Linked DNA regions of Homo sapiens: region 2 is linked to region 1. The links come from fine-mapping of genetic effects on gene expression. A gene starts in region 1. The other region holds a variant in brackets. All regions are shown on one strand. Distances are from middle to middle.

What was found.
Region 2: its variant is fine-mapped to the expression of LPCAT2 in whole blood (TOPMed, PIP above 0.99).

Annotation. Positions count from the first base shown.
Region 1 is chr16:55,505,103-55,513,102 of GRCh38, forward strand. LPCAT2 (lysophosphatidylcholine acyltransferase 2) reads left to right here and starts at 3,970. Exons shown (of 14, transcript NM_017839.5): 1 at 3,970-4,250. The coding sequence starts at 4,080. It overlaps MMP2 (matrix metallopeptidase 2), which reads left to right. Exons shown (of 13, transcript NM_004530.6): 13 at 237-1,589. The coding sequence ends at 340.
Region 2 is chr16:55,528,496-55,536,495 of GRCh38, forward strand. LPCAT2 (lysophosphatidylcholine acyltransferase 2) reads left to right here. Exons shown (of 14, transcript NM_017839.5): 3 at 1-99; 4 at 1,340-1,452; 5 at 3,419-3,479; 6 at 4,329-4,387; 7 at 5,948-5,982. Among named protein-coding and RNA genes, the nearest start is that of LPCAT2, 23 kb to the left of the region's middle. The variant CTTTTA/C (reference allele first, on the strand shown) is at 3,300.

The DNA.
Region 1 (8,000 bases):
CACTATACCCAGCTAATTTAAATATGTTTTTCGTAGAAATGGGGGTCTCTCTATGCTGCCCAAGCTGGTCTCGAACTCCTGGGCTCAAGCAATCCTCCTGCCTCAGCCTTTCAAAGCTCTCTTCTCGTTTAAAAGCTTCTTCCCTATGCCAGGCAGAAATTCAAAGTTCCCAGGAACCTTCTGTGTGCCAGAATGTCAGGATAAGGGGGTCACGGTCTCTTCTTTCTCTATCCCAGGTCACAGCTACTTCTTCAAGGGTGCCTATTACCTGAAGCTGGAGAACCAAAGTCTGAAGAGCGTGAAGTTTGGAAGCATCAAATCCGACTGGCTAGGCTGCTGAGCTGGCCCTGGCTCCCACAGGCCCTTCCTCTCCACTGCCTTCGATACACCGGGCCTGGAGAACTAGAGAAGGACCCGGAGGGGCCTGGCAGCCGTGCCTTCAGCTCTACAGCTAATCAGCATTCTCACTCCTACCTGGTAATTTAAGATTCCAGAGAGTGGCTCCTCCCGGTGCCCAAGAATAGATGCTGACTGTACTCCTCCCAGGCGCCCCTTCCCCCTCCAATCCCACCAACCCTCAGAGCCACCCCTAAAGAGATACTTTGATATTTTCAACGCAGCCCTGCTTTGGGCTGCCCTGGTGCTGCCACACTTCAGGCTCTTCTCCTTTCACAACCTTCTGTGGCTCACAGAACCCTTGGAGCCAATGGAGACTGTCTCAAGAGGGCACTGGTGGCCCGACAGCCTGGCACAGGGCAGTGGGACAGGGCATGGCCAGGTGGCCACTCCAGACCCCTGGCTTTTCACTGCTGGCTGCCTTAGAACCTTTCTTACATTAGCAGTTTGCTTTGTATGCACTTTGTTTTTTTCTTTGGGTCTTGTTTTTTTTTTCCACTTAGAAATTGCATTTCCTGACAGAAGGACTCAGGTTGTCTGAAGTCACTGCACAGTGCATCTCAGCCCACATAGTGATGGTTCCCCTGTTCACTCTACTTAGCATGTCCCTACCGAGTCTCTTCTCCACTGGATGGAGGAAAACCAAGCCGTGGCTTCCCGCTCAGCCCTCCCTGCCCCTCCCTTCAACCATTCCCCATGGGAAATGTCAACAAGTATGAATAAAGACACCTACTGAGTGGCCGTGTTTGCCATCTGTTTTAGCAGAGCCTAGACAAGGGCCACAGACCCAGCCAGAAGCGGAAACTTAAAAAGTCCGAATCTCTGCTCCCTGCAGGGCACAGGTGATGGTGTCTGCTGGAAAGGTCAGAGCTTCCAAAGTAAACAGCAAGAGAACCTCAGGGAGAGTAAGCTCTAGTCCCTCTGTCCTGTAGAAAGAGCCCTGAAGAATCAGCAATTTTGTTGCTTTATTGTGGCATCTGTTCGAGGTTTGCTTCCTCTTTAAGTCTGTTTCTTCATTAGCAATCATATCAGTTTTAATGCTACTACTAACAATGAACAGTAACAATAATATCCCCCTCAATTAATAGAGTGCTTTCTATGTGCAAGGCACTTTTCACGTGTCACCTATTTTAACCTTTCCAACCACATAAATAAAAAAGGCCATTATTAGTTGAATCTTATTGATGAAGAGACTGATGGCTCAAGAGAAGTGATTTTTCCAGGGTCCCATAGCTATTAGGGACCTACAAGGCCAAAGGATAGCCTAGCAGAGGAGCTTTAGCTCTCAAACCAGAATCTCACCACCCTCCGCCACCCTCAAAAACACCCCCACCACCTTCAAAACCGCTCCTGCTACCCTCCACCACCCCCAAAACCACGCTGGGTAAACACAGCTAAGGGAGAAATACTGTGCTTGCTTCTAAACACAGCTGGTATTAATGGATAAGCTCCTTACTCCTTCCTACCAGTCTACCCACTCCTAATCTCCTACATAGAAATTCTGGAGCTACTGCTGAACAGAAATTGAAGGCCTGGGGTTTTTCTGAGGCCCTTTCTGGCTCCGATAGTCTGATTGATAGTATATATATTGCTTCTGGCCTCTTATGATGGGGCTGGTGAGGAAGGTGCGTAAGGAGTGAACTCTACAGGTGACCTCCTCAGTGAGCCTGATGTCATTGTTTCTATCTCTTTTTTCTGTTTTTGAGATGGAGTCTCACTCTGTCACCCAGGCTGGAGTGCAATGGCGCAATCTCGGCTCACTGTAACCTCTGCCTCCCAGGTTTAAGTGATTCTCCTGCCTCAGCCTCCCAAGTAGCTGGGATTACAGGTGCACGCCACCATACCCAGCTAATTTGTTTTGTATTTTGGTAGAGACAGGTATCACCGTGTTGCCCAGGCTGGTCTCGAACTCCTGAGATCAGGCAATCCACCCATCTCGGCCTCCCAAAGTGCTAGGATTATTGGTGTGAGCCACCACTCTCGGCCCCATCTTTTCTATCTTTTATCCTCCCATGGCCTGTCCCCTTGACTCAGATTCTTTTTGTTTCTTCTTCTTCTTTTTTTTTCTTTTTTGAGACAGTGTCTTTCTCTGTCACCCAGGCTGGAGTGCAATGGCATGATCATAGCTCACTGCAGACTTGATCTTCTGGGCTCAAGCAATCCTCCCACTTCAGCCTCCTGAGTAGCTGGGACTGCAGGCATGCAACAGCACAGCCAGCTAATTTTTAATTTTTTTTAGAGATGGTGGAGTCTCTCTTTGTTGCCCAGGCTGGTCTCGAACTCCTGGGCTCAAGGGATCCACCCTCCTCAGCCCCCAAAGTGCTAGGATTACAGGCGTGAGCCACTGCACCTGGCCTGGCTTAGGTTGTTGACAGTTGGAAAGACATCTTTCTGTGCAGGTATCTGGCTAAAGAGTCTCAAGGGTCTGCCAGTCCCAACTTGAAGACCCCCTAGACTGGGGAATCTTCTATCATGGCTGTAATGCACTGTTATTAATGTTCCCTGTTACACTGAGAGAAAAGTCAGTGGCTCCACAACATAATAATGCTTAAAACATGCCATTTCTTCAGTGTTTCTCTATGAACACTACACATGCATTATTTTATTTAATCCTTGCTACAATTCTATGGAGTTAGAATGAATCTCCCATTCCTAGACAAGGAAGCAAACTCAGGTTAAGTGACTGACTCAAGGCCACACATCTATGTGGTAGGGCTGGAAGATTCTGACATTCAGAGGGTAACTTTGGAGAACCCCAGGGCTCAGACTCAGATTTTCATCCTGGCCTTCCTACCTGCTGTGAGAAGAGTTGATCAGTTGGGATGAGTTGATTATCATCTCCTTCCTTTAACTCTCAGCCACTCAGGGTTGATCAACTGTCCTCAGATAATGGGACAAACCCCTGCCCTCCCACCCCCACGAGCACCCACATAGGTCCAAACAGGCTTGAACTTCCTCAGTGTGAAAGGGAGCCACAGCCCAATACATTTCCCTTTTCTGGGTCAGGTTCCTCATCTAGCGTGGAGGGCAACTGTAATTTTTGCCTTTTCTGGTAATAGTAGCTCAGTTTTCCTCTGGAGAACCATCTCTCCCCTGTCAGTCCATTATGTTTTGAGTGAAACAAATTCCACTCCTAGTGCCATCATGGGTGTATTAATATTAGCTCACTTAATGGAACAGCCCAGGGGAAGTGGTTGCTCAATGGCATTACTGGATCCAGGTTAGGATTATCTGAGAATACATTTATCTGCATTTTACGGAAGGCAACCGAGGTTCATAGAGATAGTGATTTGGCCAGCGTCACAGGCCCAGTAAAAGGGATTGAAAATCCAGGTCCGTCCGACCCTAAAGCAGGGAACTCTGCCTAGTGTCTCGCTGTGGAATGTTAGGGATCCTGGGGTACCCTTCAGGGTCTTGGCTCGGAAGGAAAACATTCCCCTCCGAGGGGATGGACTATATTACCAAGGGGGTGGAGCCAGATGCCTGAGGGGGTGTGGCCAGAGCCTGGGGCGTGTCACAGCCGAAGGGGCAGGGCGGCAGCAGCAGGCGTCTAAGTAACTTCAGCGCCTGCGCAGAGGCTCCCCAGCGTCGCCCTAGGCTGGGACTCTAGTAGGTCTTCGGCTCAGTTTTGGCTGCAGCGCCCGCGTAGATCGCTTCGGCCGGGTTCTACGCCCGGCTCAACTATGAGCCGGTGCGCCCAGGCGGCGGAAGTGGCGGCCACAGTGCCAGGTGCCGGCGTCGGGAACGTGGGGCTGCGGCCGCCCATGGTGCCCCGTCAGGCGTCCTTCTTCCCGCCGCCGGTGCCGAACCCCTTCGTGCAGCAGACGCAGATCGGCTCCGCGAGGCGGGTCCAGGTGAGGGGCGTGGGTCTGAGGGGAGAGGTGGTCTGAGGGGGGCCTAGGTCAGAGGGGGGTCCAGGTAAGGGGTGTGGGTCTGAGAGAGGAGGGCGGCCGAGGGGGGCGTGGGTCTGAGGGAGTGAGGTGGTCCGAGGCGGGCGAGAGTCTGAGGAGGGAGGTGGCCTGAAGGGGGCATGGGTCTGAGGAGGGAGGTGGCCCGAGGGGAGCCAGGGTCTGGGGCGGGTCCAGGTGACTGGTGTAGGTCTGACGGGGGAGGGCGGTCGAGGGGCGCGTGGGTCTGAGGGGCGTTGTGGGTCTGGGAAGCAAAGGCATCAGAGGAAGAAAGAGCAGTGGATCTGAGAGGAGAGGACTTCTGAGGGGCCGTGAGCCTGAAAGGGGCGGAGATGTGTGTCTGAGAATTGAGGACATTTAGAGGATGGTCTGAGCGGGCACGGGAGGAGAGAAGATGCTGGGAAGATGCGGGCCTGAGAGGAGAATCCAAAACAGGAAGAGACTGAGCTGGCTGGTGGCGCAGGCTACATTCCATGCCCCAGAAGGTTGAAGGAATCTGTGAATCTGTGACAGAAGCTTCAACTTGAGTTTATGAGAGTGTAGTGGGAGGCAGATCTACTACGGGAGAGTAGATTTGAAGAAGTCTTTTTTTTTTTTTTTTTGCCTTAGGAAGGAGAGGAGTCAGTATGGGATGGATAAGAGTGAGGCAGAAGGCAGAGAGCCTAGGTCTGTGGTTAGAACAACAGGTAAGGCTGGAAAGATTTAGCTGAGCAGGAGCATGATGGAGGGTGGGAAGTCAGAATCAAAGAAAAGGGACAACTGAGTCAGCTTAGGATGTTCAAGAAGTTTTGGTCCAGAATCAGTCTTCACCTAAAAACGTTTCCTAAGTTGAAGCATGAGAAGTAGTAGCCCAGGCTGTTTTCCATTGTTAAAAATGGCTATACTGTTATGCACAAAGGAAGTTTCCTTTCCTTTCCTTTTTCTTGTAAAGGGTTCCTTTTACCATTGGCAGTTGCACTCTTTGGACTTCCTCTTTGTTGAAGTTAGTGATCAGAGAACAAGATAGACCCTGCTAACCACATTTGTCCGTGTGTTCTGCGGGGGTTGGGGGGGTGGGGGAACAATTTTGAAGTTTTCATGTCCATCTCACACATTACTTTGGATTTGAAGCAGTATAATATTTGCAATCAGCTTGTATGCACTAAGACCATTGTCCTCTACAGTGGGGGAAGGTTAAGTGCAGAGCTAAACAACACAGGTGGTGGCTTGAGTAATGGTAGATGGGTGTCTGGTTGAAGAGGGGTGTGAGAGAGGAAGAAGATAAAGAATGTAGTAATACTGCTTTGTGAGGAAATTAAACGTTTAAAAATGTGATCCTCATGTCTTTAAATTAATAGATATTCTTTTTGTGTCTTCACATTCTGAAACATTTGTAAATACATAGACCATTGTTCAAGATTAAATTTAGTCTGATTTAATTAAATCATACTTAAATGAAAATATGCCCATCTATTTGACTTCATATTTTGGAAAGAAACAGCATGGAATGTTGACAAATATTTATATTGCACCTATAATAAATTATTAAGTTTTTCCATCACCTGGTTTGTTACTGTTTAAAGATCTCTTCCAAATAACTCTCTGAGAGTTATAGTATAATGGAATGATAGCTAGTCAGTTATAGGAACTGGTCATTTATTAGTTGTATGACTTTGGCCAAGTCACTTAACCTCTCTGAACTATACTTTTCTCGTCTATTACATTGGAATATTAATAACTCAAAGGAGGGCTACAATTAAGTGAAATAATCTGTTATTGTTTGTTGATCTTAATATTGATAATATTGATAGTTATCCTATATATTTTCTACAAAGTATATACTGTACTTAAAATTTACTACTTGGATTAAATGGGATTTAACAAAGTCTGGATATTAAAAATACTTTTTAAATTTATATAGATCAGAGATACAAGAGGTTTCAGTGGCTTGAATCATCTGGGTAAAGGGAAGATTTGAATAGGCATGGTAGAAAAACAATGTCCATATTATCCAGTTTAAAAGGTGGACACACTTTCATTTAAGTATGACTTAGTATGATTAATTTAGACTAAGTTTAATCTTAAATGATGATCAATGTCTTGCTTAAGGACTGTTGTCCTCACATTTCACTAAGATAGTTAAACAAACAAGTACAAAAATATATAATCTCATGTTTTAGTAAGTGTAATGAAGGAAAACCAGAGAATAACACTGAGAGAAGGCCACCCAATGGAGATGACATATTACCAAATGGAAATATGATGAATTCTCTTAATTTGTCAATGAGTTAACTCAAAATTGATTTACTGTTAGACACTATTATTTGTTGCAAACCTTGAAGATGGCACAGAAAAAAAAGTTGCCTAATATTTTGCAACTTGTTCAATTAAAATCCATATGGGTTGCTCAGTGTAGACATGAGTGACTCTTATGCTAATATACTTTAAACTCATTCCAACTCTTTCTTCAGGGTCTATGCTATATGGTCCTTTCTTTCAGTCAAGATTATTGCTTGTTTTTTAATAATGATACCTCTTTGAAGAGAATCTCAGCCAGTGACCTACCAGAGTGACTTGGGAATTTGAGTCGTCTCATCTTCTCCACAGTACTCTTCCCCAGTATACCACCATACTTCATTGCACCACCATTCAAATAAATATAACATTAGCTAAAAATAGTGTGCTTACCATGTACACAGAGCTTCAAGAAAAATCTCCTGGATCCAAGATCCCTTCTATATTATAGTTCTGAAACTCCTACTCATCTTACCTAATACGTATTCTGTTTTATAGGAAATAAGACTGATAGCATAAGTTTCATTATATTTGTAAGTCAGTTTTCAAGTGAATAATAATAATTTAACAGGACTAGTTTTAGTCTCAGGAATGGTGGAGTAGCTCAATGTAGACAATGTAGACAAACAATTATAAACCCTAGTCAAAATATGAAAAACTACACGAAGGCACTATAGAGCAACACAAATCAGACAGAAACTGGAGGGATTTGTTTCTTGAAATAATACTTCTATACTGTGTAACATTACCCCAGCCCCTTTTTTTCCCTGAAGGTTATCACTTGACACCACATGAAGGGATTGCTAGAAAGCCTCAGCCTTATTGATTGACATGATATATCAGAGCACAAAGTTCAAGACTATCAAAGTGACTAAAAATCGAAGGTGGAAGTCCCAGAAAGGAGGAAACTAGAAATGAGGGAGCCCCTAAATTGGCATATAAATGATCTCAAAACCTTGGCCGATTCCTGAGCTGTGTATTTACAAAGGAGCCTTCAAGGACTCTGGAGGAAAGTAACAGCTGGAAGGAAGAAGAAACTGAGCAGACATTTCAACTGATAGACACCACAGGGAAGGCACAGTTAGAATCCCACCAATTAAGGGGGCCTTGGCAAACATCTCAGGCTTTACACTGAAACCTCACAAAGGTGATACCATAGGAGAAAAGCTAGTCCTATACCCTAGGACTAAGGCTTCAGTCTAAGACTAAGGGCTAGCTTCAAACAAATTTTCCCTAAAAAAGTATAAAACTAAGCCTTCACAAAGTGAATGCAATCAGCCAGAATTTTACCTACCTGCCAGGACAGAAATCAACATTCTTTAGAAAAGGATAACAGAATCCAGAATATCTGTAATATATCACCCAAAATGGCCAAAATACTATAAAAACTGTACTAGACATTCAAAGAAATAGGAAAATGTG
Region 2 (8,000 bases), 23 kb after region 1:
CCCCTCATTCAACATTCTTTGATGGAATTGCCTGTGTTGTAGCTGGGTTACCTTCTATGGTATCTCGAAATGAGAATGCACAAGTCCCTCTGATTGGCAGTAAGTACTTGTAAGGTAACGTAGATAAAATATTTTCATGCTCATGCTTTAAATTAAAATAATCATATATAGTTCATTGATAACCTTTTTAAAAAGTTTAAAATAAACATTTCAAACATATTTACTTTATTGTAATAAGTTACTACATGGAAATAGTATATTTATGAAAAAAGATTAGAGACTTCCCTTTTATAGCTTCATAACTCTTTAAAACTTTTTATCACTATGTCATTGTCTTTCTGTTCTTATATATAGCCAGAAAGACTAGTTTTCAGATACTATCCATGCCTGATTTGAGAGAATTTAATCCATGTTTGATTTGAGAGAATCTATGAAAACACAGGTATATGCTGTTTGATGAATTTATCTTCAGGATATTAGGCTGCTAAATGCAGTAAGTGATTTCTCCTTACTCTGTTTTCTTCATTATTGCCCCCCAAATCTCCATGAGGGACCTATGTGTAGCTCTTTGAAAATTATGATGTGGGACAATAGGTACTTCCTGCCATGAAAAATAATGACGCAAGTGAAGTGTTTTTCCTACCAGATGCTTTGGTCTCCCTCAAGAATTGTCTCCAAGTAACTACTCCCTGTTGTCCCAAGTTTATTGCAAACATCAGATGATGAGAGAGTGTGAAAGTTCCCTGATGTTGCCTCAGTGCTCTGGAGAAGTAATAGTAGTTCTTGCAGCTTTGTCATTCAGCTAAGACATTTTTTTTTTAATGTAACTACCATGCTTTGTGTAATATGGCTTTTTCCTGAAAAATTGTGTAGCAATAGATCTTTGGTAAATTGAAGTTGATTTTTCGTGTGTTAGGAAGCTATTTTAAAAAAATGTTCTACTGAAAATTGCAGTATTATGAGTAATGGTTACTCCTACTTATGTGTACTGTGAATTCACGTAATCAGTTTTCAAGGTATTCCTAAAATAAAACAATAATCTTGTAGCATATCCCAAAGGTTTAATGTCAATTGAGGAAGAAGACCTTTAGGGAGAAAATTACATTTGCTTCCTTTTGTATTTTTGCTGCTTAGTTCTGTTAAATTAATGAAATGTTTTTAGTTGTAAATATCCACTTCTTTCAAAATTAGAAGCTAAGTTCTAATAAATTGTTTTTTAATTGTTCTCTTTGATTTACTCATTTAAATTTTCCATACAATATGTTATATATCCAGTATTATTGCTGTGGTTGCTTTAGCCAAAAAATGGCTTGCCTGTAACTTTTCATTTGTTTTAAAGGACTGTTACGGGCTGTGCAACCAGTTTTGGTGTCCCGTGTAGATCCGGATTCCCGAAAAAACACAATAAATGAAATAATAAAGCGAACAACATCAGGAGGAGAATGGCCCCAGGTAAAACATGGTAGATGTTAATTTAAATATAGTGGGAGTTTATTAATTGTATGTATGTAGACTTACTCATTTGGATCCACAGATAGCAATATCTGTGGACACCTATACTAGGTATTGTTAGCATAATAGATGCAGAGTAAATACAGTAGCCAGTATTAAGAAGTCCTCTTCCCCATGAGATACTCTATGGAATTAAATGTATTATTCTTTTTTATTCTCCAAACTCTTTGAACCAATTTTCTCTTTGTGTTACAAAAATTTGATTCTCTAACTCTAAATTTAATTACCACTTTATAGATGAGATAGGGGATACCTTAGTATCTATTACCATTATACTAAAGTATCTCCTATTTCATATTTTAGAAGCTTAATTATATAAGCTCAGTTATACTCAATATTGTGGTGGGTAAGTGATTAAGATCTTTAATCTCACCTGAAGTATATTTAGATAGTGCTTTTCAGTTCAAGGGGCATATCAAAATCACCTGTAGAACCTTTTTTCAAACTTTACCATCTCACCACTCCCTTCCCTGGAATGCGGGGGTGGGGGGGGGGTAACATTTACTGCAAAATAAGCCAAGGGTGATTCTAATAGTCACTCCTTTATCTTTGCCCAGTTGAAAACAACTCATCTCTAGCAGACTAATAGTCCTACAGTTATCTAGCCACACATGATGACATGAAGATGTTAAAGTCCAAGAGAAAGTATGTGACCAAACAGGTTGTTTTAGAAACCAAAGCATGTAAGGAGTGATTAAAAAGAGGATTGAGAATAGGTGGCATTGGGAGTAGGGTTTGATTTTTCTCTGTGGATCCAAAGACTATATCTAGGACTGGTAGATGGGAGATAACAAATATATAAATTTCAGCTCATTTTGCTCATCTTGAGGAACAACTTTCTGTCCAGAAGTGGAATGGTCTGATGTGGAATCCTTTTCTAGAATTTTCAGGCATTGGCTGAACTACCACTATTGTAGAAAGAAATCAAGCATTAGATATGCTAGGTGACTTTTAATGGCCCTTCCAGCTCTGAGATTTTACGATTCACTGTATACCCATTAATCGTTAGTAGTTTAGTTGTTGAATTTTCACTGAATAAAATATATTTGATATTGTATCCCGTTGTCATAGGAAACCCACTTTTAAACTGGAGAATGGAATTATATCCTTTCATAATTTTTATTTTATAAATAACCTGTTATTGTGGCAATGTAGCCCAATAATATTTTCCCTATCTAATTATCATAAAAACACTTTGCTAACTGCTGTGAGTGCAGGATGTTACTTTATTTTATTTTATTCACTTAGCAATTTATTCATGGCTAAATTTTAAAAGCATCAGAAAATTAAGTTGCTATTTTACTTAATGGGGAAACTAACGTACTGCATATCTTTTACTTTGAAAACATGAAGAAGTATGTTAAAAGCTAAAAACACTGCCTCAAAAAGAAAAAAGATATTAAGTTGTATTCCATATGTCAACTAATTCAAGTAAACATGAAGCACATTGTACACATATCTTTTTTCCTTTGTCCTCAAGACATGCCTGAACTATATGTTGTGGGAGTAAATATTAATGGGAAAACTGAAACAAAGTTGGAAATTATTTGGTTAAGGATATATAGCAGAAGAAAGAATTTAATGTAGCCTAATGCACACTTTGACCATGAATTATGCTCTACATCTTTTAAGTTTATTCAGATCATTAGTTTTATCATTAAGAGACATTTGTTAAGTATATTCTTTATTCAAAGCTTAAATCCATTTTCTAATTAAATTAGACAACACTTTCTTTACAAGAAAATTGAATAATCTGATAGTAGCTTTCATTAGAATCAAATGTTAGC[CTTTTA/C]TTTTGTTTTTGTTTTTTAAGCATTGGCAGCTGTTTGTGAAGTCATAAGAAAGCGAGTAAAGAGGTAATTTATTAATTAGATTGAAATATTAAATCTATTCCTTTTTTCCCAAGATACTAGTTTTCCCAGAAGGTACTTGTACTAATCGTTCCTGTTTGATTACTTTTAAACCAGGTGAGAAAAATTAAATTATGTATTCTAACAAAGTAATATGTGAGATTTTGCAAATGATTTTATAGAAATACACAAAATAACTCTTTAGCTTGCTCTGAGCATTTTTTTCTTTTCTGATAGCAACTTTTTAACGTTGTGGATCCACAGAACTTACTGCTTTGCTTTCTCTTTTGGGGTCATAATTCCTCTCCCCTTGGAGTGTCCACTCCATGCATGTGCACTTAGGATGTGTGGCTGTGTGTGTGTTTGGGAACCCTCACGGACACATAAGGTTCTATGTCATCAAGTAGAAAACCTATCTCATTATCATTATAATGTCTTCAGATGCTTTCTAAGGTTCACCTCTTTTTTAACATTAGAAGTCAGTGAATGCAGCTTTCATTATAATTTTTAATACTTTAAAATGTTTTTGTATTAGCTGCCAGAATGCTCAGCAGCAAAGTTATGACTCACTTCTAGCAAGTGTGGTAGTTCTTGCTTCAAGCATTTGGTTTCATGTAGCTTTTCTTCTTATTTTTTCTTTGTCTTGATTTTATCATTACTTAAAACAATTCTGTTGAATATTAACACTTGGAAAATGAAAAAAAGTGGAGAAATAAATCAATGAATAAACAAATATTTTAAGTGGCATAGGCACAGCATTTAATATTTTGCTTCAGTAGTTCTTAATTAAAAAAAAAAAATCCCTCATTTTGGTAAGCACTAGGGATTTACCAACATTTAGCAAATGATTTCTGTTACACATACTCTTAAAATATTCAGTCTATTTATACTATTTATTAATTTTCTCTTTATCATAAAACTTTTATTCACATAAAAACACATTATAAACTTTCAATGTGGTTGCAGGAGCCTTCATTCCAGGAGTTCCAGTGCAGCCAGTCCTCCTCAGATACCCAAACAAGCTGGTAAGCACAGTATTTTACCACAGGAAGAATTTCAGTATTCCAAGTAGCACAGATTCTCTGGGACCCCTTTTAATATATAAATAAGGTTGTGAACAGATAAATGGTGGAAGCAAATGGGAGAGCTCATTCTGCTCGCCACATCTAGTTTTTAAAATTTTGCAAGATAGGCACATATCCATTGATACCAATATTAAATATTATTTTGCTATTACTGAACTTCAGGAAGATATTTTCTTAGCCTTTACTCTGTTGTCACCATGTTGGTGTGATTAATTCCCAGATTAGGGTCTCATTAGAATGAATAGTTAAAAATCTGTGATTTTCATTAACTCTAGAAAGAAATTTTTCCTGACTCAGTGGTCATTACTAGTGAAGAAGTATTGAAATAGCAGGATAAATATTAAAGAGGCTTGGTCTTTCATTACTGCCTCAGTACTTACTAATTGTGTGAGCCTTGGTAGTAAGTAACTTAATTAAATAAGAAAATACCTGAGAAAACTTAACATCTTTTTTTGTTTTTCGGGTTTTTTTTTTTTTTTTTTTTTTGAGACAGAGTCTTGCTCTGTCATCAAGGCTGGAGTACAATGGCGTGATCTTGGCTCACTACAACCTCCGCTTCCTGGGTTCAAGTGATTCTCTCCTTTCTCAGCCTCCCGAGTAGTGGGGATTACAGGCATGTGCCACCATGCCCGGCTAATTTTTGAATTTTTAATAGAGACAGGGTTTCACCATGTTGACCAGGCTGGTCTTGAACTCCTGACCTCAAGTAATCCACCTGTCTTGGCCTCCCAAAGTGCTGGGATTACAGGCATGAGCCACTGCATCTGGCCTAGCTTAACATATAAAGTCCAGAGTTGACTCAGGAAGTAGTCTCTTCTGTTCCAGTTGGGTACATTGTTGTCCTCTAAATATTGATTTTACCACCATTTTCCTAAAGAAAGATTTTTGAGGGAATGTTTTGGTTCTGAGAGGAACTTTCTTTACTAGAGAATTTATATTAAAAGCCAGGATATAATTATTAGTTATCTCTACTATTTAATATTAAGGGTTATTGATCAAATCAGTTTTCTATTTAGAGGCTGGTTTTTCAACCTTGGACATCTATGGTTAAAAAAAGAATTAAAATCTATCAAACTTTTATTTGTTGTACTTCTGCCCATAGGTTTGAGTTTATTGTATGTTCATATTATTTTATTTCCCCCAAATAAGCTTTTTTTTGAAAACGGATATATTCTGAGTTTTTTGTAATCAAATTAATTATCCAGATATGTTCATATTAGGAGAAAAGTGGCTAAGCATGTAAAATAGTTTTTAAAAAATTAAAACAAGTCATTTCATCAAAAGTTGTTGACATTAGGAAGATCTTTGCTATGTAGATATGTAATCCAAGAATTCATAGATCAGTTCACTGTTCTTTAACAATAATGTATTTATTTTACTTCTCAACATGTTGCTTTTAATTTCAGAAAAAATACATGAATCCCCATATTAAAATAAGATCTTTATTTTATTTAGTATTTTTCCTCCAGACCAACAGCTAAAATAATTTTGTTATTATAGGATACTGTGACCTGGACATGGCAAGGATATACATTGTAAGTCACTTATGTCTATTATTAGTTTATATAAATTTTATTTTAGTGAAGAAAAAGAAAGATCATTTATTCATTCTTTAAAAAAGTATTATTTTAAAAATATTGTTATATTTAAAAACATAAAGATTTCTGATCAGAGCCCTAAGTCTTATAACTGATAAGTCTCTGTAGAGAGCATCACTATCTTGACCACTAACCCCTGGAGTCTTCTGTGTGCAAAATTCTAGTCATCTGTCCCATTCAAATGGGTCTCAAGTGTTTGCTAGTTCGTAAGTGACCTAGTTTGCATCATAGTTAGCTTTAATTTTGTAGTTTTATTTCCATTGCAGATTTGGCATTATCTAGTGTCTCTATCCTTACTTACTATGTTGGTTTAAGCCATTCAGAAAAATTTAGTCATATGGCCTGAAATAGCTATGATGTGTCTGATATGAGTTGAAAAAATAGCTAACCAAGATTTCAGTTCTGCTCTTGGATTTGAAAAGCATTGGAATCAGCAGTTTCTATAAGCACTTTACTTAAGAGAGAAGAGGAATACAGTTTCATTATTAAGCAAGCTGATGTGAAGTAGGCCTTTAAAAAGAACAGAACATGTAGAAACTTGGTTTCTCTCAAGATCGTTTGTTTAGTTCCCTCTGAATAAGTCTGAGCCTGTTTAAATTTTGGTGAGAGCCGTATGAAATACCTGAATTTGAAGACTTCCTTTAGGGTCTTACCCAGTTTTCATATTGTTAAGCACAAAGCTCAGATAACATTGTTGATGGGTAGGTGACAATAACTTGGAAATATTTAAGGAAATCATCAGTTGCCTTAAGCACATTGTAGGCTTTTTTAGATAACTTCAACGTAATCCAACCAACTTCTGAAATCAAAACTGCATAATTTCTCCATTTTGTGTATATATACATTGCTTTGAAATAATAAATTTAAATCAGAATAGGTAACTGATGAGACAGTAGAATAAATATTAACACATATGAAACACTTATATTCTTGTTATGCTTCAGTCCTTGATAATTGAAGATACACAAATAACGCCAAACATAAAGAACATAAATTGTAAAGGATATCTAAACAGCATATTATCTTTCACTTACCAGGAAATCAATTTATTCATTTGACTAAAATACATGTTTCATGCCATTACTTATTTTGAATTCCTGATTGCTTTTAGACATGGAAGAATTGGGAGAAACAGGTAGTATGAAAGTATTTGGGAAAACGAAGTGCCTTAACAATGGATGCATAGCATACTTCCACTTTCTGAGGTGTGCCATCCTTTGGGCCTTTACAGGTTAAGTTCCTTACAGAGATAGTGATGTGGCCAATAGGACTTTTTTTGGTTGCCCAGCAGTCCAGGTTAATGTGATGATCAAATAGGAGAAAGCTTTTCTGGAAGAGGAACTGGGGATAGAAAATATAATAGACGGGTTTAGTTAATCTAGCCTTCTCAACTGAGAAGTATGTGAGAAGAGGAAAAGGAAATTAGGAGAAAGAATTCAGGAATGAAAGGGAGAAAAAATATTTTGAGAGTCAAAAATTTTTCAGGACTTTTAAACAAACACAAAATCTTTGAAAGGCACAGCTTTGTTTTGTTCAATCTATTGCAAATCTCACGTCCACTTTTGTCTTCTCATCTACTTAATATTATTAGCACTGTGTCTGTTACTTCTAAATCTGTTTTCTCAATTGCCCTTGCTCAAAGTGCTACTCCAGTTACAGATTCTAAGAAACAGATTTTATACCAAAACGAATATCCCAAGGAAAAGGAGACTTGGAATAAACTTAGAGAAGTTTTGTATCAGACTAAGAAGTATTTGGTCTGTCTGTAGGGTGGACAAGACAGGTTAAATGAGATTTTATGTGTGGTTTCATATTTTTCACAGTATTCAGAATTTTCAGAATAGAATGCATCTATTCAAGTAATTGAATTCCACAGCTCCATTTAAATAATTAAAAACAACTTATGCTAGATAGTGTGGATTGACTTTAGAGTTTATAGATAGTAAAAGATTTTT